Homo sapiens: one gene and its partners. The protein of the gene in region 1 purifies or fractionates together with the protein of each later gene. This does not show direct contact. Each region holds a gene or a part of one and is shown in the gene's direction. Other genes may lie near its edges.

Region 1 (5,564 bases):
AGGCCGGGCGCAGTGGCTCACGCCTGTAATCCCAGCACTTTAGGAGGCCGAGGCGGGTGGATCACAAGGTCAGGAGTTTGAGACCATCCTGGCCAACATGGTGAAACCTCGTCTCTACTAAAAATACAAAAAATTAGCTGGACGTGGTAGCTGGTGCCTGTAGTCCCAGCTACTTGGGAGGCTGAAGCAGGAGAATCGCTTGAACCTGGCAGGCAGAGGTTGCAGTGAACTGAGATTGCGCCACTGCACTCCAGCCTGGGCGACAGAGTGAGACTCTCTCTCAGTAAAAAAAAAAAAAAAAGATATTTAATTGATGTATAATGTGCAATACAGAAAAACACACGAGTGGGTATAGCTCAATGAAATTTTATAAACTGAAGATATATGTTATTAATATTTCCACCATAATTTTGAACATTTACATTTAGTGGAATAAATTGAGATTATAAATATGCTTATATCAGGTCAGGTGGTGCTGCCAAATGAATGACATTGGGTTTTGCTGTCAAAGAGTTATGAAACACCCGGGTTTTGGATTTCTGGCTTTGGGATGAGAGCTTGTGGGCCTGTGTTAATAGGAGAGACAGTCACATGAGCAAGGCATTACAGTAAAGCCTAGAAAAGGCTTCAGGGCCATGAAAGGATGGGGACTGGATGGCTCTTCAGCCTGGGGTTTGCTCGTGTATTCCACATCCTTCCTCCTCAGTCCTGCCATTTTGCTCTTTCCCCAGGAGTACACATCCAGATGCCAGCCCAGCTACCACAGGGGATCCCTCTGGGAGACTGAAAGTACAGGTTCTGGGGCCCAGGTTGAAGCCGACCAACCCTGAGCCTCAGGCCAGGGGAATGGCAGCCCCCTTGGAGGCCCAGGACCAGGCCCCTGGGGAGGGAGAAGGGCTTCTGATTGTGAAAGTGGAAGATTCCTCCTGGGAACAGGAATCTGCCCAGCATGAGGATGGCAGGGATTCCGAAGCCTGCCGCCAGCGCTTCCGGCAATTCTGCTACGGGGATGTGCATGGGCCTCATGAGGCCTTCAGCCAGCTCTGGGAGCTCTGCTGCCGCTGGCTGCGGCCCGAGCTGCGTACCAAGGAGCAGATCCTGGAGCTGCTGGTGCTGGAGCAGTTCCTGACAGTGCTGCCAGGGGAGATCCAGGGCTGGGTGCGTGAGCAGCACCCGGGAAGCGGTGAGGAGGCTGTCGCCTTGGTGGAGGACCTACAGAAGCAGCCAGTGAAAGCCTGGCGACAGGTGAGGGGCCCTTCCACATCCAGGGGCACCTGGATGGTATCTGAGCTCGAGAGAAGTGGGTAACCTGCAGAGATAAGTCTCCCAGAGGCTCACAGGGTAGGGGAGACACAGAGCCCCCAGGAGCAGGCACACAAGCACAGTGTGCCATGGGTGCCTTTCTGAAAGATGCGATCCAAAGTAAATGTGATTTATTTTTTGTGGCTTTGGAAGGCAGCAATAGGGCTGAAGTGCGAATGTTCCAGACAGGAGGTTTTAGCTCCATGCAGGGTCTGCTGATGTTTATTTGCATTTTGCTCTAGGCCTGGCTCTGGGGACACAAGGGTGTGCATAGAGCCAGCTCCAGAGTGGGGCGAGAAGGTGGAGCTGTCCGGGGCCTCTGCTACCTTGTGGGATGTTGGGTCCTTCACATTGGATGCATCTGGGGAGGTTCTAATGAGTGGCTGGGGGATGGGGTTCTGCCTTTGGCAGGAGGGTCCCCAGCTACCCCCTTGCTAAGTGGCTGTGATTCTGGCCTTTCAGGGCTGGTTCTTGCCTCGTGAATGATCGGGGAGCATCCTTGGGCACACAGCATTACCTGGTATCACATTCTCCTCCGGACTTTTCCTGGGGCACCATATTGGTCTCCTTCCCACACCCCAGCATCCTGAGGGTCATGTCCTGTGTCTCCTTCCCAGGGAGTAAACTCTGTCTCCCCCGGTCTGGTCTCGGGCTGATGAGCATGTTGTGGTTCCTGCACAGGATGTGCCCTCGGAGGAGGCGGAACCCGAGGCTGCAGGCCGGGGATCCCAGGCCACGGGGCCTCCCCCGACGGTGGGGGCACGGAGGCGGCCGTCTGTTCCCCAGGAGCAGCACAGCCATAGCGGTGAGTAAGCCTCCGTTCTTGTGGACAGTCGAGTGGCTGGGCAGGGACCTAGCTTTGTCACCGGCGTTGCCCTAAGGGTCACAGGCAGGACAGCTCCCTCTGTGAAGTCCAGGGCGTGTGTGCATGCGCACAGGCTGGGGAGGCCATAGGCGTCGGTGTCAAGCCTGGGCTGGCCTTTCTAAGGCTCCATTCTTCTCCTTCAGCCCAGCCTCCTGCTCTTCTTAAAGAGGGTCGTCCCGGAGAGACGACGGACACCTGCTTTGTCTCTGGGGTCCATGTGAGTCACCAGTCCCTTTGTCTTCTTTAAGGCACTTGGCCCTGTTGAGTTTGTAAAATGGGACTTGCTGTCCCATCAGGCCTCTTTCATCTGACCCATCCTGTCCCCGCCAGTGCTGCTGGGAGGCCTGAGCCGGGTCTTCTCACCCCATTCCAGGGACCTGTGGCATTGGGAGACATCCCATTCTATTTCTCCCGGGAAGAATGGGGCACCCTGGACCCTGCTCAGCGGGATCTCTTCTGGGACATAAAGCGGGAGAACTCCCGGAACACCACCCTGGGTAAGCACCCAGGGCCTTTGGGTCCAGGCTGGCCGCCCCCGATTCTGCTGGAACTTCAGTCTTGTTTCCCACCCCATCCTTAGCTGGTTCCAAAGCAGGCTCTCCCTAGGTCTTGCCAGGAGCCTGAGTAACTCCTTTCTTGGCTGATGATCAGTTTTTGTGCGTTTCCACATGCAGCATGGGACGGCGCCGGCGCTGCCCAGCCCTGCAGTTGCTCTAAGGGCAACTTCTCCTTTGAGTCTCACAACCTAGTGCATGGAAGTATTGTCCCCATTTTACGCATAAGGGACCTGAGACTCAGGTCAGTGGATGCTGAAGGGACACAGCTGGGACTTGGATCAGGCACAGTTGTGAGGCCACCTTGGGCTGCTAGGAGCAGGGGTGCTGACGGGGAACCCCAGCTGCTCACCAGCCTGGGCCCCTGCTCGTCAGAACTGCACTTACCAGGTTCCTCTCCATGCCAGGCCCCTTCTCAGCACCATCAGGGATCATCTTGTTCAGTCACACTCCCAGGAGGATGGGCTGCGACCTCTGTCCAGATCTGTGTTGAGTTTGGAGAACTAGAGCCTGCGTGGTGAAGGGAGCCACACTAGCTAGACCAGTTTGGCTCCTCAGTTTCCGACTGTGACGGTTGGGAAAAATTTTCTTTCTTTTTTTTTTTTTTGAGATGGAGTCTTGCTCTGTCGCCAGGCCGGAATGCAGTGGTGTGATCTCAGCTCACTGAAACTTCCACCTCCCGGGTTCAAGCAATTCTCCTGCCTCAGCCTGAGTAGCTGGGATTACAGGCATGAGCCACCATGCCCGGCTAATTTTTTTGTATTTTTAATAGAGACGAGTTTTCACCATGTTGGTCAGGCTGGTCTCGAACTCCTGACTTCATGATCCGCCTGCCTCAGCCTCCCAAAGTGCTGGGATTACAGGCGTGAGCCACCGCGCCCGGCCCTTGAAAAGTTTCAGAATTACTATAAATCTGTTCTGCTGTGGAGCTTGATATCTGGGGTTCAGAGTGGGACATTGGATCCCAGTGTGGCCTGCAGGGCACAGATGGCTTAGGGGGCTGGCCCATGCAGGCGGGATCAGAGGCTTATTCAGACTGCTGCTCTGCCGAATTTTTTCATCATCCCTGATTTATTTGGGTTTTTGTTTGTTTTTGAGACAAAGTCTCGCTCTTGGAGTGCAATGGCATGATCCCGGCTTACTGCAACCTCCGCTTCATGGGTTCAAGTGATTCTTCTACCTCAGCCTCCTGAGTAGCTGGGATTACAGATGTGCGCCACCATGCCCTGCTGATTTTTGCATTTTTTAATAGAGACGGGGTTTCACCATGTTGGCCAGGCTGGTCTCGAACTCCTAACCTCAGGTGATCAGCTCGCCTCAGCCTCCCAAAATGTTGGGATTACAGGCTTGAGTCACTGCGCCTGGCCAATCATCCCTGTTTTATAGATGAGGAACCTGAGAATTCAGCTGTGTGAACCCAGGGCTTTCTGAACCTGGAGGCCAGGGAGCTTTCCCCAGCCTTGTTTCTTCCTCACCTCAGCTCTGGCCCCAGAACCGCGTGGGACTGAAGAGGTCGCCTCCTTCCCCTTGCAGGTTTTGGGCTCAAAGGCCAAAGTGAGAAGTCCCTGCTGCAGGAGATGGTGCCGGTGGTGCCAGGCCAGACAGGCAGCGACGTGACTGTGTCCTGGAGCCCCGAGGAGGCTGAGGCCTGGGAGAGCGAGAACCGGCCGAGGGCGGCCCTGGGCCCAGTGGTGGGCGCGCGACGGGGGCGGCCACCCACTCGCCGGCGCCAGTTCCGGGACCTGGCAGCCGAGAAGCCGCACAGCTGCGGGCAGTGTGGAAAGCGCTTCCGCTGGGGCTCGGACCTGGCGCGGCACCAGCGCACGCACACGGGCGAGAAGCCACACAAGTGCCCTGAGTGCGACAAGAGCTTCCGCAGCTCCTCGGACCTGGTGCGCCACCAAGGCGTGCACACGGGCGAGAAGCCCTTCTCCTGTTCCGAGTGCGGCAAGAGCTTCAGCCGCAGCGCCTACCTGGCCGACCACCAGCGCATACACACGGGCGAGAAGCCTTTCGGCTGCAGCGACTGCGGCAAGAGCTTCTCGCTGCGCTCCTACCTGCTGGACCATCGGCGTGTGCACACCGGTGAGCGGCCCTTCGGCTGCGGAGAGTGCGACAAGAGCTTCAAGCAGCGCGCGCACCTCATCGCGCATCAGAGCCTGCACGCCAAGATGGCCCAGCCCGTGGGGTGAGCAGCTGGCTTGGCCGGAAACCCGGGGGAGGCCCAGCCACGGCACATCCTGCTTTGTTCACCACTGGGACTCTCCTTCCATCTGTGGCCACCTCCCGGGCTGTCCGAGGGACCCCAGGGTACCTCACACTCGGAGCTCGCCTGCCCTGCTTGGCTCTGAGGACCTGCCCAGCGCTCAAAGGGAACGGAAGCCTTCCCCTCCCGCCCCCGATCTTGTCCTCTTTCCCCCTTCTGCGCCTAGCGTTCCTCTTCCCCTCTAGTTTCCTGGAGCCCCAACACATTCCTGGCAGGGACAGCAGGGTGGCAAGGACTCAGGTCTAGGTCCCTTCCCAGAAGCCCCCGAGCCTCATTTGACTGTGTGGCTCTTTGGCCCCCACCCTGTGGGGTGGGTCCATGGGTCAGGCCTCTGCCCTACCAACCTGTGCCTTTCAGTGGGCGTGGAGGACTGGCCTTGGCCCCCCAGGGGGCTGCTGGACTTTGGGAGAGACAGCCCACACCTGTGGGACCGCGGGTCTTAGTCACGGCGGCAGGGGCTTTCTGGCCCCCTCCCACTCCCGTTTCCAGGCCATGACCACTCTGCCCTGTCCTGGCCATACGGACTCGGCCTGCCTTTGCCCTCGGCCTACTTGCCCTAGCATGAGGCTCTGAGAGC
Region 2 (3,474 bases), on another chromosome or scaffold:
AAGTGCTGGGATTACAGGCGTGAGCCACCGCGCCCGGCCCCCAGCCTCTTAACAGTAAATATTCTGGGTACTTTGCAGGCTGGAGGTCTCCTGGTCCAAGATGAGGTGCAGGATGGGTAGTGATGTGGCCCTGGAGCCTGCAGGTCCCTGTGGTTTAACTGTGTGATTGTTGTTGGCACGTGTCCTGACCTCTTGGGGTCACAGGTCCCTCCACTGTTGACAGGGATGCTGCTGGGCTCCCCTGCGGGCTCATCCTCAATTCTTAGCGATGGAGTGTACGAGAGGCACATGGACCCTCTGCTGCTACCAGGCGAGCTCGCGAGCCCCAGCCAGGCCCTTGGAGCTGGGGAGATCCCGGCACCTTCTGAGACACGTGAGTGCCCAGCTAGCCTGGCAGCCTCTGCTGGGCCTTAGGTGGGGTGTTGGGCAGAGGCCTGTGGTTGGGAGAGGGCAGAAGGGCAGCCAGGGAGTCAGGGGCTCCATGGTCCATGCTATCATTGGGACTTCCTCCTGTAGTTTCTCTGAATGTTAGACATTGTTTATTAAATTAGTCTTCAGAGATTATGCAGATCATCCATACTTACCACAAATAGTGAAGAAACATCAATACATAAAGAAAAGAATCTCCCAACCCCCGACCATGAACCCTCTGAAAATAAAGGGTCTCAAGTGTCCTGATGCACGTCCCCTCATGTCTCCCTGCACATCACACATGCATAATCAGGGCCTGGGGTCGGGCTCTGTGTGTGTGGTGTGCTGTGTCTGAGTGCTTGCTGTTCGAGGGGTGGGTCCCCCAGGCTGTGGTTGGGTCTGGTTCTTTAGTTGCCCAGCATCGCGTGCTCAGCCCATCCCCATCCTAGAGGTGGGCTCTCTGCCCCTTGGAGTGAAGCTGCCCTGACACCTCCTGACTTGTGTGCCCATATGTGAGGCTCTGGGCACTGTGGGTGGACTCCTCAGGACCACTGGGCAAGTGGTGTGTGAGTTCGACATTTCACATAAAATAGAAACTTCCATGTGGTTTTCCAGAAGTTTTGTGGCTGTTCATTACCAGCACGGAAGGTGCCCACTGGCCTGGATACAGCCCAGCACTATGTGGTGTTGCTTTTTAGGATTTCCACGAAGGCCAGGCACAGTGCCTCATGCCTGTAATCGCAGCACTTTGGGAAGCCAAGGCGGGCAGATCACTTGAGCCCGGGCATTCGAGACCAGCCTGGGCAACATAGGGAGACCCCATCTCTACAAAAAATACAAAAATTAGCCGGGTCCGCACTTTTAGTCCCAGCTACTTGGGAGGCTGAGGTGGGAGGATTGCTTGAGTCCAGGAGGTGGAGGTTGCAGTGAGCCAAGATCATGCCACTGCACTCCAGCCTAGGTGACAGAGCAAGACCCTGTCTTTAAAAAACAAACAAACCAAAAAAAAAAAAGATTTCCATGAATCCAGTGGACTTGAATGGGCATCTCTGGGGCCACCCAAGCCCTGTGGCCACCGCGCTGCTTTGTAAATCAGGGAAAGGTGTAGTGTCCGTTGAGCCTTGGGTGCTGCTGTCACAGAAGCACACTGGGGCCTGTGTGGGAGGCAGCGGGGGCTCCTTGACCCTTGAGGGCACCTGGCCACAGGGAGCTCATTGCCTCAGCTCTGCCTCTCCTTCTCCCCAGCCTGGCTTTCTCCGGACCCCCTGTTTCTGGAACAGAGGAGGGTCAGAGAAGCAAAGACCGAAGAGGACGGCCCTGCCAACACCGAGCAGGTGGGTGGGCACGAGCAGGTGGGTGAGGGGCCTTGGCCTCAGCTTAGAGGCATCCCCCTCCCCATCACCAGTGCTCAGCAGAGGGCTGTGGCCCCAAACGTCCACAGCGCTGAGGCCCAGAACCCACCCTGGTGGGAGCGTGAGGGCGGAATCTTTGTGGTGCGAAGGGGGCTGCCTCCTGCAGTGCACCTGGGTTAGAGTCCCTGGCCAGGGCTGGCTCCTAGCCTGCTCCTGTGGCTGTGGGGCTGCGGCGGGTCCTCCCTTCTCTAGGGCAGGTGGGAGGTCTCAGCCACGACTAATGTTTCAGAAGCTGAAGTCCTTTCCAGAGGACCCTCAGCACCTGGGGGAGTGGGGCCACCTGGACCCTGCCGAGGAGAACCTGAAGAGCTACCGGAAGCTGCTCCTGTGGGGTGAGAGTCGCCTGCCTCGGGGTCACGCCCCACTCCCCATCCCCTTCCGCAGGGGTTGGTGCAGGAGACTGTGACCCCAGGGACTTTGGCTGGGACACTGTGATGTCTTACAGGATTTGAACTTGCACGTGTTGGAGCTTGAATTTATTCGCTGAAGCCCCCACCCTTTCTGATCTAAACATCTGAGTTCTGCCCAGGCCCTGCCTGTAGGACTGAAGCCTCGGAATTTGGAAAGGCCTCCTGGCCCCAAGGCGCCCACATTGCCACCCTCCTTGCCAGATACAGGGCCTCACCTGCATGGCCTGATCAAGGGTCTCCTCTTTTGTAGACGTTCTTGCCCCAGAAACCCTCCTTTTAGGGAGGCCCCCCGACTCAGACTCCTGAGCAATTTTTGTCAATGTCTTTCTTTAGCTTTGCTTTCTCTGAGTCCTGCCTCCGCCTGCCCCGTTGCCCTTCCAGCCTCGCCTTCTTCTTTGCTCCACTGTCCAGGGGCCTAACAGGGAGGTGGCCTTGGTGGGGGTCCCAGTACAGAGAAGAGGAGGTGGGCTGCAGCCTGCCCTGGCTGGCCCACGACACACAACACCCATCAGCCACTCTGTGTTGATGCCTTTTATTTCTTTGGTTTTTAACCCCACTCAGGGTATCAGCTTTCCCAGCCTGACGCTGCCTCCAGGCTGGACACTGAGGAACTCCGGTTGGTGGAAAGAGATCCACAAGGAAGCAGCCTCCCAGGTGAGGTTGGGTTGAATTGGTGTTAGGGCCGGGTGGGGTTTGCTTTTTCTTCAGAGGCTGAGGGGGCCCCTCCCAGCGCCATCAGCCCCAGCAAAGACCTCAGCATTGACTGCTTCACCATTCTCCCACCACCGTGTCTGAGTGAGGCAGGAATCCAGTTACGTCCATGGTCTCTTGCTGCATGACAGACCACCCCAAGACTTGGTCGGTGGAAACGGCAGTGGTGTTAGTTGCCAGGATCTGTGTATGACTGGTCCCGGGGGTGGCCGTTCTGCCCCATTGGAGGCTCTGTGCCAGCACACCAACAAGAACACCTAGAGGCGGACTTGGGCTGGAGGGCCCTGGGTGCCTGTCGCCAGGGGGCTTGTCGCTGGGGGGTTTGGCCTTAGCTATTGACCCCACTCTCTTCGCTGGCAGCCGGGCCCCTCCCTCCAGGAGGGTGCGCTCTGAGCAGGCTCTCCTTGCATCGTGCATCTTGTGGCCAAGCTAGTGGCCAGGTGGAGACCTCCAAAGGCGCGGTTTCCAGAACCCGGGCTCAGTGGGGCTGTCCTTCCTGTCCTGTCGGTGGCCTCCGTTGTTGGAGGCCT
Region 3 (6,426 bases), on another chromosome or scaffold:
ACCCCAACTGGGGATGGGATAGGAGACCATCTTTCTTTCCAGAGTGGCAACACAGTGCAGGGGGGTCCCTGTCTTAGCAGTGACTTGCTGGTGTGCAGAGGGGTCACTCTCTTAGCAGTGACTTGCGGGTGTGCAGGGGGTTCACCACCTTACCAGTGACTTGCAGGGGGTCCCTGTCTTAACAGTGACTTGCGGGTGTGCAGGGGGGTTCGCTGTCTTAGCAGTGACTTGCGGGTGTGCGGGGGGGTTCACTGTCTTAGCAGTGACTTGCGGGTGTGCAGGGGGTTTCACTGTCTTAGCAGTGACTTGCGGGTGTGCGGGGGGGTTCACTGTCTTAGCAGTGACTTGGGGGGTCCCTGTCTTAGCAGTGACTTGCGGGTGTGCGGGGGTTCACTGTCTTAGTGACTTGCGGGTGTGCGGGGGGTTCACTGTCTTAGTGATTTGCATGTGTGGGGGGGGTTCACTGTCTTAGTGACTTGCGGGTGTGCGGGGGTTCACTGTCTTAGTGACTTGCGGGTGTGCGGGGGTTCACTGTCTTAGCAGTGACTTGTGGGTGTGCGGGGGTTCACTGTCTTAGTGACTTGGTGTGCGGGGGGGTTCACTGTCTTAGTGACTTGTGGGTGTGCGGGTGGTTCACTGTCTTAGTGACTTGCGGGTGTGCGGGGGGTTCACTAGTGACTTGCGGGTGTGCGGGGGGTTCACTGTCTTAGTGACTTGCGGGTGTGCGGGGGGTTCACTGTCTTAGTGACTTGCGGGTGTGCGGGGGGGTTCACTTAGTGACTTTCGGGTGTGTGGGGGTTCACTGTCTTAGTGACTTGCGGGTGTGCGGGGTTCACTGTCTTAGTGACTTGCGGGTGTGCGGGGGGTTCACTGTCTTAGTGACTTGCGGGTGTGCAGGGGGTTCACTTAGCAGTGACTTGCGGGTGTGTGTGTGGGGTTCACTGTCTTAGCAGTGACTTGCGGGGGGGGTCCCTGTCTTATCAGTGACTTGCGGGTGTGTGTGGGGGGTTCACTGTCTTAGCAGTGACTTGCGGGGGGGGTCCCTGTCTTATCAGTGACTTGCGAGTGTGCGGGGGTTCACTGTCTTAGTGACTTGCGGGTGTGCAGGGGGTTCACTGTCTTAGTGACTTGCGGGTGTGCAGGGGGTTTCACTGTCTTAGCAGTGACTTGCGGGTGTGTGTGGGAGGTTCACTGTCTTAGCAGTGACTTGCGGGGGTTCCCTGTCTTAGCAGTGACTTGCAGGTTTGCGGGGGTTCACTGTCTTAGTGACTTGCGGGTGTGCGGGGGGTTTCACTGTCTTAGCAGTGACTTGCGGTTGTGTGTGGGGGGGTTCACTGTCTTAGCAGTGACTTGCGGGGGGGTCCCTGTCTTAGCAGTGACTTGCAGGTATGCGGGGGTTCACTGTCTTAGTGACTTGCAGGTGTGCGGGGGTTCACTGTCTTAGTGACTTCCAGTTGTGCGGGGGGTTCACTTAGCAGTGACTTGCAGGTGTGTGGGGGGTTCACTGTCTTAGCAGTGACTTGCGGGGGGTCCCTGTCTTAGCAGTGACTTGCAGGTGTGCGGGGGTTCACTGTCTTAGTGACTTGTGGGTGTGCGGGGGGTTCACTTAGTGACTTGCAGGTGTGCAGGGGGTTTCACTGTCTTAGCAGTGACTTGTGGTTGTGTGTGTGGGGGTCACTGTCTTAGCAGTGACTTGCGGGTATGCGGGGGTTCATTGTCTTAGTGACTTGCGGGTGTGCAGGGGTTCACTGTCTTAGTGACTTCCAAGTGTGCGGGGGGTTCACTGTCTTAGCAGTGACTTGCGGGTGTGTGGGGGGGTCACTGTCTTAGTGACTTGCTGGTGTGCGGGGGTTCACTGTCTTAGTGACTTGCGAGTGTGCGGGGGGTTCACTGTCTTAGCAGTGACTTGCGGGTACATGGATAGTCACTGTATTTTTTATTCCTCTTGATATATTTCAAATATTGCAAAATACCCTTAGATTACATATCCCCAAGAACATCTAAAAGCGTTCCCAGTAACATTTGCTTAGTCCATTCACTCTCAAAAACACGCCAGTCTTCCTACCTGGAAACTTCTGTTGAGGGATGCGATGAAGGGGAGTGAGGCGTTTCAGTGCTGCCTCAGCCCAATCCTGATTCTCCGTGTGGCAGCGCCTTCTTGTGTTCTAGGTCGCCCCACAGAACCAGTTATGTGCTTACGCCTGTGTCTCTGTCTGTGCTGTTCCCTTCCTGGGCCAGCACCAGGCTGCTGGGCAGCGCCCTTGTTTGCAGTGTGGAAACACCCACTCTGGGGCTGGCACTATCTGTCGAGAATTTAAAAGTGATCATAAATCTGTATGAAAGCTGATGTGCTTTTCGTTATTACCATGCACCAGCAATTCCAGTCAGTGTCGGCCATACATCATCTGTCGTCTGTGTTCTGAATAATGGTTACTGTTGAGTTTTAATAACATAAATGTAAGCTTCAGATTCACACATTCTTATTACTTACCCTTTCGTAAACATTGTGTTTTATGTGGAAACTAATTTGGGGAACCCCCAGTCAATGGCCCTCACGTGCCAACTTGGCTGCATACCCCTGTTCCAAGACCACGTGCACAGCTTGGCATTGCTGGAGGGCGCTGGGCACACCTTGTGTCTCCCGCCTCTGTGGCGCTGTGGGCTCCTGGATGGAAGCAGGAGATGGGAAATAAACATGGATCGCTGAATGCAGTTTCTCTTCTCTGAGTTCGTCTTTTTTTTTTTTTTTTCCCCTGCTTTGAAGTTTTAGACAAGGTCAGTCAGACACTAGGTATTTGCCAGCAGCCAGGGTCAGTGCTGGGCCATGGAAGGGAAGCGGCCCGCTTCTTTCTCATGGCACCTTGAAGACGCGCCAGCGTGAAAGGCCTCTCACCGCGCATGACCATGGGGGCAGGACGTGAGGGCGCGGGTTAGTGTCAAAATAGGAAGAGGAGGCGAGCTTCAAGGACGGCTGGAGAAACCAGAAGGGCATTGTTTGAACACATCTTTCATCAGAAACTGGACTCATGAAGCCATGGGTCAAATCATGGCAGCGTTTGCATCATTCAGCTATTTTTCTGTCATTTTTGTAGAAAATGTAAGATTGCAGAGGTTTTTACCAGTATTATGAAGTTATATCATGAGGATGTGTGCGGTAGTAGAATTTTTCGACAGCAGAGACATTTGAAAGCCATTACAGTTGATCTTGAAGAAACAAAAGCATGGACGGTATTGTATTGTCTGGAATGTGTGTGAAATGCAGTTGTTCTAAAATTCTGCCACACTTTGCCCAGTGGATTTTTACTATTTCTATCCGTTGCCTCATTTGAAAGAAACTTTTTGAAATTAATAGAAAAGCAGTTTAACTCCAAAGAAACATTGACAGATATGACTAGTAACTGTTGAACATGATAAGGATTATGTTCAGGTCATTATGGATCATTGACAAATTGCAGAACATAAGGCTTAAAAATAAACTGTGCTGTTATTCATGAGTGAGATAAATAGGTGGGGTTGTTTCAAAAAATACACTAATGTTAAAAGTGTGACTCCATTATTTTGTTTCTCCTGTGACATGGATTCTTACTGACATGATTATAGATAAAGCTCGGTACACATTTTCACTGCATTTCTCTTCTGCCCATTGTGATTGATCATTCCTGATTTCTGAAAGTAACTGGGTTGTGGGGGAGGGTGGCGTGCGCTGTGCACCCCAGGGGTGGGGTCTGAGTCCTTGCTGCCGCTCCCCCCACTGAGGAGTGCTGCTGTCTGCTCTTGTTTTGAACAGCGCCATCATGACCGGGTCCTATAACAACTTCTTCAGGATGTTTGATAGAGACACGCGGAGGGATGTGACCCTGGAGGCCTCGAGAGAGAGCAGCAAACCGCGCGCCAGCCTCAAACCCCGGAAGGTGTGTACGGGGGGTAAGCGGAGGAAAGACGAGATCAGTGTGGACAGTCTGGACTTCAACAAGAAGATCCTGCACACAGCCTGGCACCCCGTGGACAATGTCATTGCCGTGGCTGCCACCAATAACTTGTACATATTCCAGGACAAAATCAACTAGAGACGCGAACGTGAGGACCAAGTCTTGTCTTGCATAGTTAAGCCGGACATTTTTCTGTCAGAGAAAAGGCATCATTGTCCGCTCCATTAAGAACAGTGACGCACCTGCTACTTCCCTTCACAGACACAGGAGAAAGCCGCCTCCGCTGGAGGCCCGGTGTGGTTCCGCCTCGGCGAGGCGCGAGACAGGCGCTGCTGCTCACGTGGAGACGCTCTCGAAGCAGAGTTGACGGACACTGCTCCCAAAAGGTCATTACTCAGAATAAATGTATTTATTTCAGTCCGAGCCTTCCTTTCCAATTTATAGACCAAAAAATTAACATCCAAGAGAAAAGTTATTGTCAGATACCGCTCTTTCTCCAACTTTCCCTCTTTCTCTGCCATCACACTTGGGCCTTCACTGCAGCGTGGTGTGGCCACCGTCCGTGTCCTCTCGGCCTTCCTCCGAGTCCAGGTGGACTCTGTGGATGTGTGGATGTGGCCCGAGCAGGCTCAGGCGGCCCCACTCACCCACAGCATCCGCCGCCACCCCTTCGGGTGTGAGCGCTCAATAAAAACAACACACTATAAAGTGTTTTTAAATCCAAACAGAAGTATTGTCTTTTTATTTAATTTTATTGCATAGAATGAAGTTATGCAGGGTTCTTCTTTGGAACTAACTGTTTGAGAAATGTGTGTCCTTCTTTGGCAGCGTGGGGGTATGTGTGCAGCATTTCTGTCCCCAAGCTGCTGCCCGCTGTGTTTCTGTAGAAGTAGCCCATCAGATACACCAGGTAAGGTCTGGGAAAAGCCAGAACCGAGGCCACCTCTGAGAAAGAAAATTGCAAGGAAGAACCAAAATTGCTGCCATCCAGTAAGCCTGGTTTAAAGTAGCTTCAAATTCACTACAGTTGAAGAAATACGTGCTTGCTTTCTAAGGCTTTTGAAAAAGCACTTTGGGGAAAGTATACTTTTTAAACATTGCTAAAATTACATGCATGCTAAATTTCATCCTGCATTTCAAGCCAGCAAAATTAAGCAATTTTAATTACACGATGCCACCAGTACGTTGGTTTATTTTCAAAGTAGGATCTTTGATACCAGAAATCAAGATTTTCCAAGACAAATAATACAGAGCTGTACCAATGCTGAGTGACCAGAGCTTGCTTCCGTGGGATTTAACACACGCCCACTACGTGTCCCCGAGGGGAGTGGGGAGTCGGGCTCCCGTGCCCCTGTGGAGATGGAGGTGTGTGCTGATCCCCCGTCCGCCTGTGGAGATGAAGGTGTGTGTTGATTCCTCCTGCTGCTGTGGAGATGGAGGTGTGTGCTGATCGCCCGTCACCCTGTCTAGATGAAGGTATGTGCTGATTGCCTGTGCCCCTGTGGAGAAGGAGGTGTGTGCTGATCCCCTGTGCCCTGTGGAGATGGAGGTGTGTGCTGCTCCCTCGTGCCCCTGTGGAGATGGAGGTGTGTGCTGATCCCCCATCCCATCCCCCTGTCTAGATGAAGGTGTGTGCTGATTCCTCATGCCCCTGTCTGGATGAAGGTGTGTGCTGATCCCCCGTCCCCCTGTGGAGATGAAGGTGTGTGCTGATCCCCCGTGCCCCTGTGGAGATGAAGGTGCGTGCTGATCCCCCATCTCCCTGTGGAGATGAAGGTGTGTGCTGATCCCCATCCCCCTGTGGAGATGAAGGGATATGCTGATCCCCTGTCCCACTGTGGAGATGAAGGGGTGTGCTGATCCCCCGTCCCCCTGTGGAGATGAAGGTGTGTGCTGATCCCCCATCTCCCTGTGGAGATGAAGGGGTGTGCCAATCCCCCGCGCCCCTGTGGAGATGGAGGCGTGTGCTGATCCCCATCCCCCTGTGGAGATGAAGGTGTGTGCTGATCCCCCATCCCCATGTGGAGATGAAGGGGTGTGTTGATCCCCTGTCCCCCTGTGGAGATGGTGTGTGCTGATCCCCGTCCCCCTGTGGAGATGAAGGTGTGTGCTGATCCCCCATCTCCCTGTGAAGATGAAGGGGTGTGCTGATCCCCCGTGCCCCTGTGGACATGGAGGCGTGTGCTGATCCCCCGTCCCCCTGTGGAGATGAAGGTGTGTGCTGATCCCCCATCCCCATGTGGAGATGAAGGGGTGTGTTGATCCCCCGTCCCCCTGTGGAGATGAAGGTGTGTGCTGATCCCCGTCCCCCTGTGGAGATGAAGGGGTGTGCTGATCCCCCATGCCCTGTGGAGATGGAGGTGTGTGCTGATCCCTCGTGCCCCTGTGGAGATAGAGGTGTGTACTGATCCCCTGTTCCCCTATCTAGATGAAGGTGTGTACTGCTGATCCCCCGTCCCCCTGTGGAGATGAAGGTGTGTGCTGATCCCCCATCCCC
Region 4 (4,664 bases), on another chromosome or scaffold:
AAGGATATTTTTATTGTATGTAAATTATATATTGGCTTAAAAAATTAGATTGCCAGCAATAAAAGATAAGTGTAGTGGATATTGCTTGCTTGCCCAGTATTCATTCTCCTGCCTCCCAGACTTTCTTTTAGGGAGCCACCACGGCCACCACCGCCCTGTACCAGACAGTAGTGTAGGTGATACTGACTCCATGGCTCAGCTGCAGGAGTGAGGGCTGATTGGTCTAATGGTCCTATCCCCATTTTCGCCACATTTTCTATCTTGGACAGTCAGATGCAGAGCTCCTAGCCTGGAAAGATTGGCACCTTAGACACACAGGCTGGCAGCTGCCCACTCCCTGTGGCCCACCTGGACATTGTTTCAGTGTCATCTTTGCTGTTTTAGAAGCATTCCTTTGTCATGCAGGTAAAGTTTGAAAGCCACAAGAACGTAACTGCCTTTTCTTTTTTTGAGACGGAGTTTCGCTCTTCTCACCCAGCCTGGAGTGCAGTGGCACAATCTCGGCTTACTGCAGCCTCCGCCTCCCAGGGTCAAGCAGTTCTCCTGCCTCAGCCTCCCGAGTAGCTGAGATTACAGGCGCCCACCACCACGCCCAGATAATTTTTTGTATTTTTAGTAGAGACAGGGTTTCACCATGTTGGCCAGGCTGGTCTCGAACTCTTGACCTCAGATGATCCGCCCGCCTCGGCCTCCCAAAGTGCTGGGATTACAGGTTTGAGCTAGTGCGCCTGGCCCATAACTGCCTTTCTTATGGGCTTCTCTTGAAGCAGGAGCCACAGACAGCTAATAATGTTACCTGCCTGGTGTCTGGCTCCTTCTACTCCCCTGACCAAATGCAGGTCATTGCCATCTCTAAACCTGCCATGCTTCTGTAAAATATCTGGTAGGCCACAGGCAGTTGCCGGGAGTTCCATGTGTTAGAGCAAGAGAAAGGTGGCAGATGGACATGTAGCCAGCAGCCCCTGAGTTCTTCACTGTAGACTTGTGAGTTCTTGGGCATAAATCCTCTTCATTCACAGATGATGCTCCTCTGTTTTCCTAGTGCCTTTAACACTGAACATTTCAAACTGCTGCCAGGATCCTCTGTTCTCTCTGCTTTAAACTTGGTTTCCTTGTATCTTCTGCATATGCAAGAACCAGGAACCAGGAAGGCTATCTTTCCCTAAGCCCTTGTTCTGTAGCCACACTGGGATCCAGCATGGGGCACTGTGGGCCGTTGTTTGGCCCCTGTCATAAGTGCCAAGTACTAAGAAAGAACCTGGTCCTTTGCACTAGTAGGGTAAACAGCTGTCCTTCCATGCCAAGGGCTGTTCTTCCTAGTCTGCAGGATCCCCTGAGAGCAGCCCACAGGACCCGGAGCACCTAGTGGTCTTTGAAAGCAAGCCAGGGTCCCACAGGAACAAAGGACAGCTTTCTTTCCTGGTGGCTCTGTGCACCAAGTGTGAACTCCTCTGTATTCACTGTGCCTTTCTGGGGCCTGCTTGCTATCAGTCTCTTTAGAGCTGGCATATATTCCTGTGATTCAAGCTCTACACTAACCAGCTGTGTGCCCAAATAAGTCCCTCGCCTTCTGGGTCTTAACTTTTTCTTTTTACTTATAAAGTAAATAGCCCAGACAAGTTGAGCCAAGAATTGTCTGTCTGCAACTCTTTACCTAAGTGAGGGACCCCAGGGCAGCCAGTGCAGAGGAAAAAGCTCAGACTATCCCCTGAGCACACCAGGGTATACATGCTCCCTGCCCAGAGTACACAGAGCGCTTCCCTGCTTAGCCTCTTCCTGCTCGGAACCCACAGCTTTGCCCAGGCCAGCATTAGCACTTGAAAGGAGGAGATGACTGATGGGAAGGAGGCGTCTGGGGCAGAGCCACTTGCTGACTGGTCCCAGGAAATAAGGACAGTACCTGTACTTCTCCCACATGGGGCTTCTGGGCTGATCAGCAGGCCAGTGTGGTACCTGTGGAGCCGGGAAGCACAGATTATTGTTGAGATGCTCAGTCACAAGCTTGATTTGGCCCACATGGACATAGAGCCTTCCAGATGACTTTTAATTCAAGGTCCAGCATCAATGAACTGTGTTTTACCAGAAAATCCAGGGATGTTTTGAGTACAACTCTTCCTTGAAGCCATTTGGAGAGTGTTTGTACTCAGCAGTACCAAGGCCTGCACAAAGGCAGGGTCTCGATGGGGAGAGAAGGGTGTCTGCAGATAGTCACTGCACTCTAGGCCCCCATTTCAGTCTAAGAAATGGGAAGGAATCTCCATCCAGAGTCCTTTGCTAAACAAGGGAACCAATGCATCTAGGGAAGTCCAGCCTTTGTTCTCCAGTGGCTCTTCCCTGTGTGACCACACCCTCTAGCTGTTAGAAGGGGAAACTGCAGGTGTGGCCTGTTGCCTGTGGCAGGCTTCCACCCTGTTTTCTATAGCAGTGACTGGGAGGTTCTGCCTGAAGATCGGGAGGAGAGGAAGGATCACACCTCTCCTCAGAGAAGTAGGCTCTCTCATGGCCACATCAGCCCCACCAGCCAGCGTGGCGGGGACAGGTTTGGGGCTCTGAAACAGGTAGAGGCCATTGTGCTGGAAGGCTGATGGTAGAAGAGATGTTTCCCTTGGGATTTGCATTCCTCCTGGCTTCCCCTAATCCCTGGTTCCCCTGGAGGAGTCCAGGAGCTGGCAGAGACCATCATGCATTGGTAACCAGGGCAGAACAAGGTCAGAGATCCTGCTCTCCAGCATTTGTCCCATGCTCAGCACCACAAGGGCTCAGTAAATACTGTAAGAGCAGTGGCTGAAAGGGTGGTCACCTTGGGTCACCAGTTCTCTGAAAGAACTCTGGCTCTTTGGTTCTTTTCAAGCAGGAGAGAGTTGACAAAGGCATCGAGACAGATGGCTCCAACCTGAGTGGTGTCAGTGCCAAGTGTGCCTGGGATGACCTGAGCCGGCCCCCCGAGGATGACGAGGACAGCCGGAGCATCTGCATCGGCACACAGCCCCGGCGACTCTCTGGCAAAGGTGGGAGCCATCACTCAGCATTCCACCAGCCTTCCTCCTTCCTTTTCCCCAGGGCCTGGTTTCCAGTCTCTCTAGGATGGGTCTCTAACAAAAACAACCCATTCAATAGTTTATTTCCTGGCATGATTTAAACAGCAAGTGAAGTCTTCCAGCAGGGCGGAATTAAGGGAGCTTTATTGGCCCATTCCTAGTTGTGTTTCCTGTGTGTATTTCAAATGCATCACCAGCAGGCACCGTTGTGTTTTAGATATGCCCTTTGCAATCTGAGGTCATGGAGGTGAGTGGAAGCCTCAGAACAGTTACAGGAAAAGTCCATAGTCCACCCAAGTGCAAGAGAAAAGTGTCGGCCACCCACGGAATTGACACAGGGCCCAGCTCTGGCCTGAAGGCCATGCCAGATCCAAGGATCACTCTGGCCTCGGGCCCTCCCAGGCCTTCAACAAATGAGGCCTGAGTGTGAGGCTGGCTTGCAAATTGCCCACCTCCTGTCATATAGATACAGGGTTAGGGGCTGTGGGCAGGGCCTCTGGACCCACCGTGTTCCGGATGGGGTCTTTGGGAAGGAGGATGTGGCTGTCCTGTTGGAATCTCCCTGTGCTGATCTTGGCTACAGAAACAGTTGTGGTTTTTAGTAGAGGGCGTCCCCAGCTAACTGCAAAGGAGAAGCAGCCACTTACATATACATGTGTTGACAGCTTCTTTGTCTACTTCCTTTCTTCATTCTTCCATCTTTTCTTTTTTTGAAGAATAAGATGTCTACAGCCCTGAATAAAATCCTTACATATATGATAACACTTATAAAAGGTTTTTGTTCGTTCTGTAAAGGACAAACTTAAACTCCTAGTGCAAATATTTGAGCCCTTTCTTTTTTTTTTTCTTTGAAACAGGGGTCTCTGTTGCCCAGGCTGGAGTACAGTGGGTTGATCTTGGCTCACTGCAACCTCTGCTTCCCAGGCTGAAGTGATTCTCCAGCCTCAGCATCCCAAGTAGCTGGGACTACAGGCGTGAGCCACCAACGCCCAGCTAATTTTTGTATTTTTTTGTAGAGTCAGGGCTTCGCTGTGTTGCCCACGCTGGTCTTAAACTCCTGAGCTCAAAACAATCCACCCGCCTCAGCCTCCCGAAGTGCTGGGATTACAGATGTGAGCCACCGCACCCGGCCAAGCCCTTTCTTTCCTTCCTGTTTGTTCTAATGGCATGCCAAGCCTATTGGAGGCTCAAAGAGAGGGTATACAGTTATTGGAATCATTTGGTTGCTTTTGACAAAAGAGGTGATTTAAAGAGGGAGTCATAGTCTTGTCTAAAATTTCAGTCATTACTGGCTATTTTTAAAAATTGTAAAAGTAATCCATTCCACTGTAACAAGTCAAATAGTTAGAAAAGTTAGTAATCATCTCCTTCCCACTCTAAGGCCACTCTTTGAGCAACTAATTTTAATTTGCTTTTTTGTATCTGTTTACAGTTTGCAGAGGTAAATTTAGATCCAAATCTCAATACAGGGGACCAGACTAGTAAGCTTCATCCCAAAGACCAGCAAAGCACCTTACAAAGAAATAATCCCACCAAGGGAACTCTTTCACTTCCTGGCCCTTGCCTCTCCATGGAGAGGCAGAGTTTCCTGGGATAGACCAAGGTGGAGAGATGATCTTAGCATCT
Region 5 (6,426 bases), on another chromosome or scaffold:
AAGGAAGGACTTTGGTCTGGGAGAGACAACACTGGGGATCTTGTTTTGGTTCTGTGTCTAACTCTCATTGTGAATTTGGACTTTTGCTTCTCCTCACGGGTCCTCTGTTTCCTCATCTACAAAATGAGGGTTTTGAAATAGACACTAAGGGCATCGAGCTTAGGCATGTTGTAATCCTATAACTTCCAGCATTTTTGGGGGTACCCACTGTGTGTCTAGTTTTAGGCTAGGTGTGTGGGAAGTCCTAACTTAACACAAAATCAGTCAAGGGGACAGTGCAGGCAGTTGGAATGTAGGGCTGGTGAGTGGTGCTATGTGTCGTTGGGGGATCAGAGGGCCAGTAGGGTCAGGAAAGCCTTTCTGGAGTATTGGAGACCCCAGAGGATGGGAAATTTGAACTTGAGTTCTGAAGGATGAAGTAGAAACGGAAAGGGGAGTGATCTTTTGAGCCCCATGAGAGCAGGAAATGTATCTTCTCTTTTGTTTTTTCAGGTTATACTAGCAACTTTCCCGAATACCTAGACATCATTTGCCCACCACAGTGTCTGGAACTTAGTAGGTGCTCAGTAAATGTGTGAGAGTTGGATTATATTCCATGCAAAGGCTTCAGGGAATGGAAATAACAGTTTCGGGGCACCATGGTGTGTGCAGGGGCCAGCAGAGCAGCCAGCTTGGTTGGAGGATAAGGTCTTTGGAATTAGATGAGAGCAGATGGAGTGGGGCCTGGATGCCAGTCAGGGGTGGGGTAGGTGAGGGTGTTGGAATTTCTTCTGTAGGCAGTGGAGAGTTATGGAAGGTTCATGAGCAGGGAATGTTCTGAGTCCAGTGTATTTGGTGAGGTCTTGCCTAAGAAGTTCCTGGGGGTTCCCAACTGGACTTTATGGCCTATGAACTCCAGCAAGAATACCAGGGTCTATTTACCAAAATAGATAATGGTCAAAGCCGTGACCAGTTCCTGCTGGAACTGACTTGCCAGCTACCCTGTCCCCTGACTTAGAGTTTTGACCCTCAGTGCAGTGTGGTAGAAACTGAACCCTTTTAGAAGCCAGGAGGCCCTGGTTCTTAGCTCATTCCTCACTCTGTAACCTTGTAGAAGCCACATTTTTTTCTGCAGAGTGAAGGGAGAGTGGATATAGCCATCTCTAAGGAAGGCTTGATCCCCTCCCAGCTGGTGGCTGTCTGAGCCATGCTTGGGTATGTGCTTTAGGTACATCCGGTAAGGTAAGTAGAAAGGACCTGTCCCTGGAATCTAGGCCAGGAGGCATCAATGTCTGAACCACAGGACTGGCTTTCATATGCATGATAAGGTGTATTGTACAGATAAGGAAACTAAGGCTCAGGAGGTTAGATAGGTGGGCTAGGTTATACAGCAAATAAGCGACAGAGCTGGGCTAGACCCCAGGTCTGACTGTCTCCAGATCCTGCTCTTTCACTCTACTCCAGTGCATTTGCTCATGAGTGAGTCTTTTGGCTGGACTGAGAGTTCCCTGAGTCAGGGCTGGCTATGAATCCGCCCACTGCCCAGCAGTGTAGCTCAGAACCAGGCTGGGCACAGAGGGCTCCATGTACCTGGTATTGAGCTATTTGAAAAGATTGTGCCTCTCCTGTTGACTTTTGAGTTTTTCTGAGTCAGTCCAATTTTCTTTATGGCCACAAGGTGGTGGCAACAGCCTGCAGGCTGCCCAGACCAGGCCAGACGCACTTAGCTAGCGTTGCTTTTCTCCTAGGCTTAGTGTCTCCTCTGCTTTGGGTCTCCCTTCCCTGGGCTCAGCACTGGGGAGTTTGCAGACGTCTCAACTGTCATTTCATCTCCTTGACATCCTTGTGAAGCTGGCAGGGCAAGGAGTTTTGTCTATGTTTTACAGTCAGGAAAGCTGTGGTTGAGAGAGAGAGGAGCTGTCATGGTCACGTGGTGAGTAGTGGGAGTGGAATGGAGCTAGATCTCAAAGACTCCTAGTTGAGACCTCTCCATCCTCAGAGAGGCCTACACCCTGCTTGCTCCTCTCCATTCTACCTTTCCTTTTGGGTTTATGACTTGACATCAAGATTCAGAACTGGGTTGAAGAACTGGAGTTGAGGGAGAAAGTGGACAAGATCAGGGAATCTTTAGTAATAACTCTTATAGGAACATAAAGCATATGCAGAGCTTCATAGATTATGAAGAGCACATTATTTACCATAGGCAAGACGTGGTGCTAGCAGTTGACCTGCATTCCCTCTATGATGAGAGGAGTGAAGAGTTTGGGCTCTGTAGTAGAAAGGTGTGGAAGTCAGGTTGTTAACAGTGGACACCATGTGGGGAGGGAATGATTCGTTTCTCATTATATATTGTGACATCAGTTTGCTTGTCAAAGTCCACGTTTCTAAAGTACTGCCACTGTCTTAGTGGGCCCTCCACGCAGTCCTGAGATGGGTATGTCCTGGCCGCGGATCTGACCAGTGCCCCCTTTCTCTTCAGATGCAGCCCTGTTGGAAGCTGCCCGTGCCAACAATATGCAAGAAGTCAGCAGGTGAGTTGAACCCCAGGCCTTGCTCTCCCCTACAGGAGAGGCTGAGCAGGGCGAGCCTCTTCTCGTGTGATGACTTTGCTTTGGAGGAAATCCTTACCCTAAGCTGGGAACTGTCCCCTGTGACATCTCTGTAGTCACAGAGTCACCTGGGCTTCCTTTACCCAGATCACCCCTTGGATATTTTCGGTAGGGAGTCAGCTCCCAAACATCCCTGGATCCTTCAGCTATTTTGTTCTTCACTGGGTTGGTTTGGACTCCCTTCAGCCCCCATATCCTTTGGGTTCTTCTCTGAATCTTCTGATTTGTGCTCATTTCTTTGGGAATGGCCATGTATTACTGCTTGCTGCCTGGACAGGTTGCAGGTCGGCATCTATGGAAAGGCTTGGGGATTTGGGACAGAGCTGGAAGAGACCATCTGCCAGAAGGTCTGGGGCTAGAAATGCCTGCCTGCAGGGCCAGGGGCCCATACCTGGCTTTGCCCGGGGACAGACTGCATTTCTGTAGCTTCACTGGCTCAGCTAGTCTCCAGTGACCACTGGCAGGTTGAATTTGAGGCTTATTATTTGGCAAGGGCAAGATTCAACTCGGCTCAGCCCAGTGCCAGGTATAGGGCAGAGTCTGTGTCCAGGATGGATGCTCAGACTGGGGCCAGCATGGGGCATCAGTTACAGGGCTGTTGGTTAAGGGCAGAGGTCTTATTCTTGTTGAAACTATGCCCCCCACTGGGCCTAACCTTGGCCTCTCTTGGCCATTTATATAGAGCTAGGTGGCCATAGGACACCCCCCTTCCTTGCCATCATGTCTGCATGTTAGACAGGAAGTCAGGTGTTGGGGTGGCTATTTCCACACCCAGTGCCACAGGCCCTTGGTGTTCTTCCCCACCTTAGCTTCCTGAACATACAAGAAAGTGTTGAAAAGCAGCCCACCCCACCAAGACTTACTGCTTTGATTCCCTTTCATTTTATCTGCAGCATTATTATTGATTCTCAAGGGTGCTTTTGGGTATTAATGTTCAAGCCTTAGTTTTTAATAAACCACTTTTGGAAATATGGGCTGGGAGTTGTTTTGTAGCCAAATAAATATGTTGGAGCAATAGTTTAATAAACATGCGATGATGCATCTTAAAAACCAAGCACAGATGTCATCCTGTTGTTATAAGAGCCATTCATAACTGCAGGCTGTGTGTGGCATCTTCATTCCTCCAGAAACAGATGTGCTTTGCTTCATTCTGCTGCAGTACAGGAGTACGGGTATGGAAACTGACCCTTGCTGACCCTGGAATCACCTGTTGGCTACTGCGAAGGGCTGCCGGGCTGCGACTTTCCCCTTTTGGCAGGGCATTTGCAGAGCAGCAATGTTGGGAATCCACTCTTCCATCCCCCAGGGGATGCCACTACCATATTCCATTGAGCTGCCAGGCATTGATTATTTAGTTCTTTCAAATACATGTTTTTCTAATAGCAATTAAACACCCATCCCAAAAATACAGAAAGTAATTGAACTTAACGGTGTATGTGTGATTCAGACAATTTTTCTGAACATTCATTCTCGTGTGGATAGTGTCTGGGGGGGCTTTTCATGTGTGTCCCCAGGCTCTAGCCTGCTTTTCTCCTGCCTCCTCTTGTCCCACCTCACTTGGTCAGGATGACCCTGTCAGAATCTCCCTTCACTCCATGTGAGGACATCAGAGATGAGCGAGGCACAGACCTGCCCTCAGCCCCCATCTCATACAAGACCACAGAGCCAGGAGCAAGCTAAGCAAAGGCGGGAAGCAGATGCTGGCTGGCTGCTGGGCCTGCGGAATATGTTGATGCTCCTGAGGTGGGATTTGTACAGGGTGTCAGAAAAGAGGGAAGGTTGTCTGAGAGAAGCTGGAATGTGCAAGGCCTGCCATGCCCAGGGTGAGGAGTTTTGAACTCTTACTCTGTACACAGTGGGGAGACGTGGGAAGTTTTTGAGCAGGGGAATGACCCAGTTAAGGCTGACTTGCAGAGGAGTGAAGGATGGACTGCATTGGGAAAAGGCTGAGGGCCGATCTGTTAAGAGGCTGTTTCTGTTTCAGTAAAGACAGATTCAAGATGATGAGGGCCTGAATGAGGACATCCTTCCCTCCCCCTCACCCAAAGCAGCTCTTGATTATGAAAGAGTGAGTGGGCCTCTGCTGGGCACTGCAGATGGGGGATGGGGATGGTGACCCAGGCCCTGGTCTCAAGGAAACAGACATGTAACCCACCAGTTATAGTTCTTCCTGCGAACAGAGCCAGGTCTGGGGGCAGTGGGGGTAAAGGGAGCCTGACCATCCTTGCTAGAAGGAAACTTTCTGGAATTCCTACAGTAGGTCCTTATTCAGCCTTTCTGTACCCTAGACTCTGTACAGGTGGTTCATGCTGCTCTTTATTTCTTCTTCAATGTCCTGGGCTCTTAGCTCTGCCCAACAGACCTGCCTATAGCAGGACAGAATCCCATACTCATTTATTTCTTTGAATTTACACATACAGTCATGCCTTGCTTAACAATAGGGACACATTCTGAGTAGTGCAATTTCATCACAGTGTGAACATCATAGAGTATACTTACCCAAACCTAAATGGTAATAGCCTACCACACACCTAATCTATATGGTATAGCCTGTTGCTCCTAGGCTAGGAATCTGTATAGCACGTTATTGCCCTGAATACTGTAGGCAATTGTAACATAATGGTAAGTATTTATGTATCTAGACATACCTAAATACAGAAAAGGTCATTTGTTGCACTATGATGTTGAGACAGTTACAACGTCACAAGAGGATAGGAATTTTTCAGCTTCATTATAATCTTATAAGACCACCTCATACATGCAGTCTATCGTTAACAAACACATCATTGTGTAGCGCATGACTGTAGGTTACACATGGTTGGGTCACTGTGTATATGATTGATATGGTCAATAATATCAGTATTTAGAGCAAAACTCAGACCTCGTAAATAATGTCGTGCTTTACCCTTCTTCCCCACTTGACCTCTCTGGGGCTCTGTACTGTGTCTGCCTCTACTTGACCTCCCCCAGCTCCTGTCCTTAGCCCCAGAGTCTTGGGAAAGTTCTGGATAGTGAAGGGCAGCAGCCTAATGCTCTTCTGCTCCCAGGGGGAGGTATTCGATCCTCCTCTTTAAGGACACCCTGGAATCTTCAGTCCATGGGCCCTGGATGTGGGTCCTCCACAGATGGCCCTCTGCCATCTGTATTCATTATCCTCTGCTTACACCTTTCAAAGCTCTAGTGCTGCTTTCCTTACAGAGCCTTCTTGGATTCCTCCCAGCTGGGTGTGATCTCATCTTCCTTTGCCTCTTCCCCCCACTCTGATCCTACACCTGCCTTCTGGTCTGGGAGGGTATGAGGGTGATCTAGAAAGGACCATGGCAGCTTGTCACAGGAGGGAGCTCCTTTTGTGGAAGAGAAGCTGGAGGTCAGGTTGGAGAAGTAGAGCTGAATGCCACTTGCCACACTGTTCTTTATATGAAGAAGTCTGTGGGCTATATTTCATCTGAAACTGCTGGATTGTGCACCTCCTGAAGGGCAGGGACAAGGTTGTGTTCTCTACCGTCTTTTACCCTGTTCCACAGCACAGCGGCACTTACTTGTTTTTTGTGACTCTTTCTTTGCTTTTTATTGACTTTTCAGTGTACCTGAAGTAAGCAGTCCAGAGGCTTTCACACTCCCCTTGGCTATATCAGAGGGAGGCCAGGTCTCTTCTCTTTCCTCCCTCCCTCGCTCCCTCCCTCCCTCCCTTCCTGTGTGACATCCATTTCCTCCCTTCTCCCCTGAGGCACTTAAGTTCATCCATCTCTGGTTCCTCAGAAGTGGAAGCCTGGCCTCCTACCTGTCAGCAGTGTGAGCAGGTGGTCCTGCTCCTGGGCTTACCCCAAACTTGAGCCTG

Evidence for each region.
Region 2: the proteins of ZNF213 (region 1) and ZSCAN18 purify together in Homo sapiens (affinity purification with mass spectrometry; one large-scale study listed by BioGRID and IntAct). This does not show direct contact.
Region 3: the proteins of ZNF213 (region 1) and PPP2R2D purify together in Homo sapiens (affinity purification with mass spectrometry; one large-scale study listed by BioGRID and IntAct). This does not show direct contact.
Region 4: the proteins of ZNF213 (region 1) and SUFU purify together in Homo sapiens (co-immunoprecipitation; 2 studies listed by BioGRID and IntAct, with this or other methods). This does not show direct contact.
Region 5: the proteins of ZNF213 (region 1) and CLPB purify together in Homo sapiens (co-immunoprecipitation; one large-scale study listed by IntAct). This does not show direct contact.

Annotation. Positions count from the first base shown.
Region 1 is NC_000016.10:3,136,435-3,141,998, forward strand, and holds part of ZNF213 (zinc finger protein 213), read left to right. Parts: exon of another isoform or gene 1-654; coding exon of another isoform or gene 655-846; coding exon 847-1,245; intron 1,246-1,919; exon of another isoform or gene 1,920-1,983; coding exon 1,984-2,107; intron 2,108-2,310; coding exon 2,311-2,384; intron 2,385-2,540; coding exon 2,541-2,664; intron 2,665-4,201; coding exon of another isoform or gene 4,202-4,254; coding exon 4,255-4,913; 3' UTR 4,914-5,564. UniProt on the Homo sapiens protein: May be involved in transcriptional regulation.
Region 2 is NC_000019.10:58,085,587-58,089,060, reverse strand, and holds part of ZSCAN18 (zinc finger and SCAN domain-containing protein 18), read left to right. Parts: intron 1-223; coding exon 224-373; intron 374-1,656; coding exon 1,657-1,745; intron 1,746-2,052; coding exon 2,053-2,155; intron 2,156-2,794; coding exon 2,795-2,887; intron 2,888-3,474. UniProt on the Homo sapiens protein: May be involved in transcriptional regulation.
Region 3 is NC_000010.11:131,951,897-131,958,322, forward strand, and holds part of PPP2R2D (serine/threonine-protein phosphatase 2A 55 kDa regulatory subunit B delta isoform), read left to right. Parts: intron 1-3,787; coding exon 3,788-4,067; 3' UTR 4,068-6,426. UniProt on the Homo sapiens protein: Substrate-recognition subunit of protein phosphatase 2A (PP2A) that plays a key role in cell cycle by controlling mitosis entry and exit. Involved in chromosome clustering during late mitosis by mediating dephosphorylation of MKI67.
Region 4 is NC_000010.11:102,594,286-102,598,949, forward strand, and holds part of SUFU (suppressor of fused homolog), read left to right. Parts: intron 1-2,851; coding exon of another isoform or gene 2,852-2,854; coding exon 2,855-3,008; intron 3,009-4,664. UniProt on the Homo sapiens protein: Negative regulator in the hedgehog/smoothened signaling pathway. Down-regulates GLI1-mediated transactivation of target genes. Down-regulates GLI2-mediated transactivation of target genes. Part of a corepressor complex that acts on DNA-bound GLI1.
Region 5 is NC_000011.10:72,426,396-72,432,821, reverse strand, and holds part of CLPB (mitochondrial disaggregase), read left to right. Parts: intron 1-2,458; coding exon 2,459-2,510; intron 2,511-6,426. UniProt on the Homo sapiens protein: Functions as a regulatory ATPase and participates in secretion/protein trafficking process. Has ATP-dependent protein disaggregase activity and is required to maintain the solubility of key mitochondrial proteins.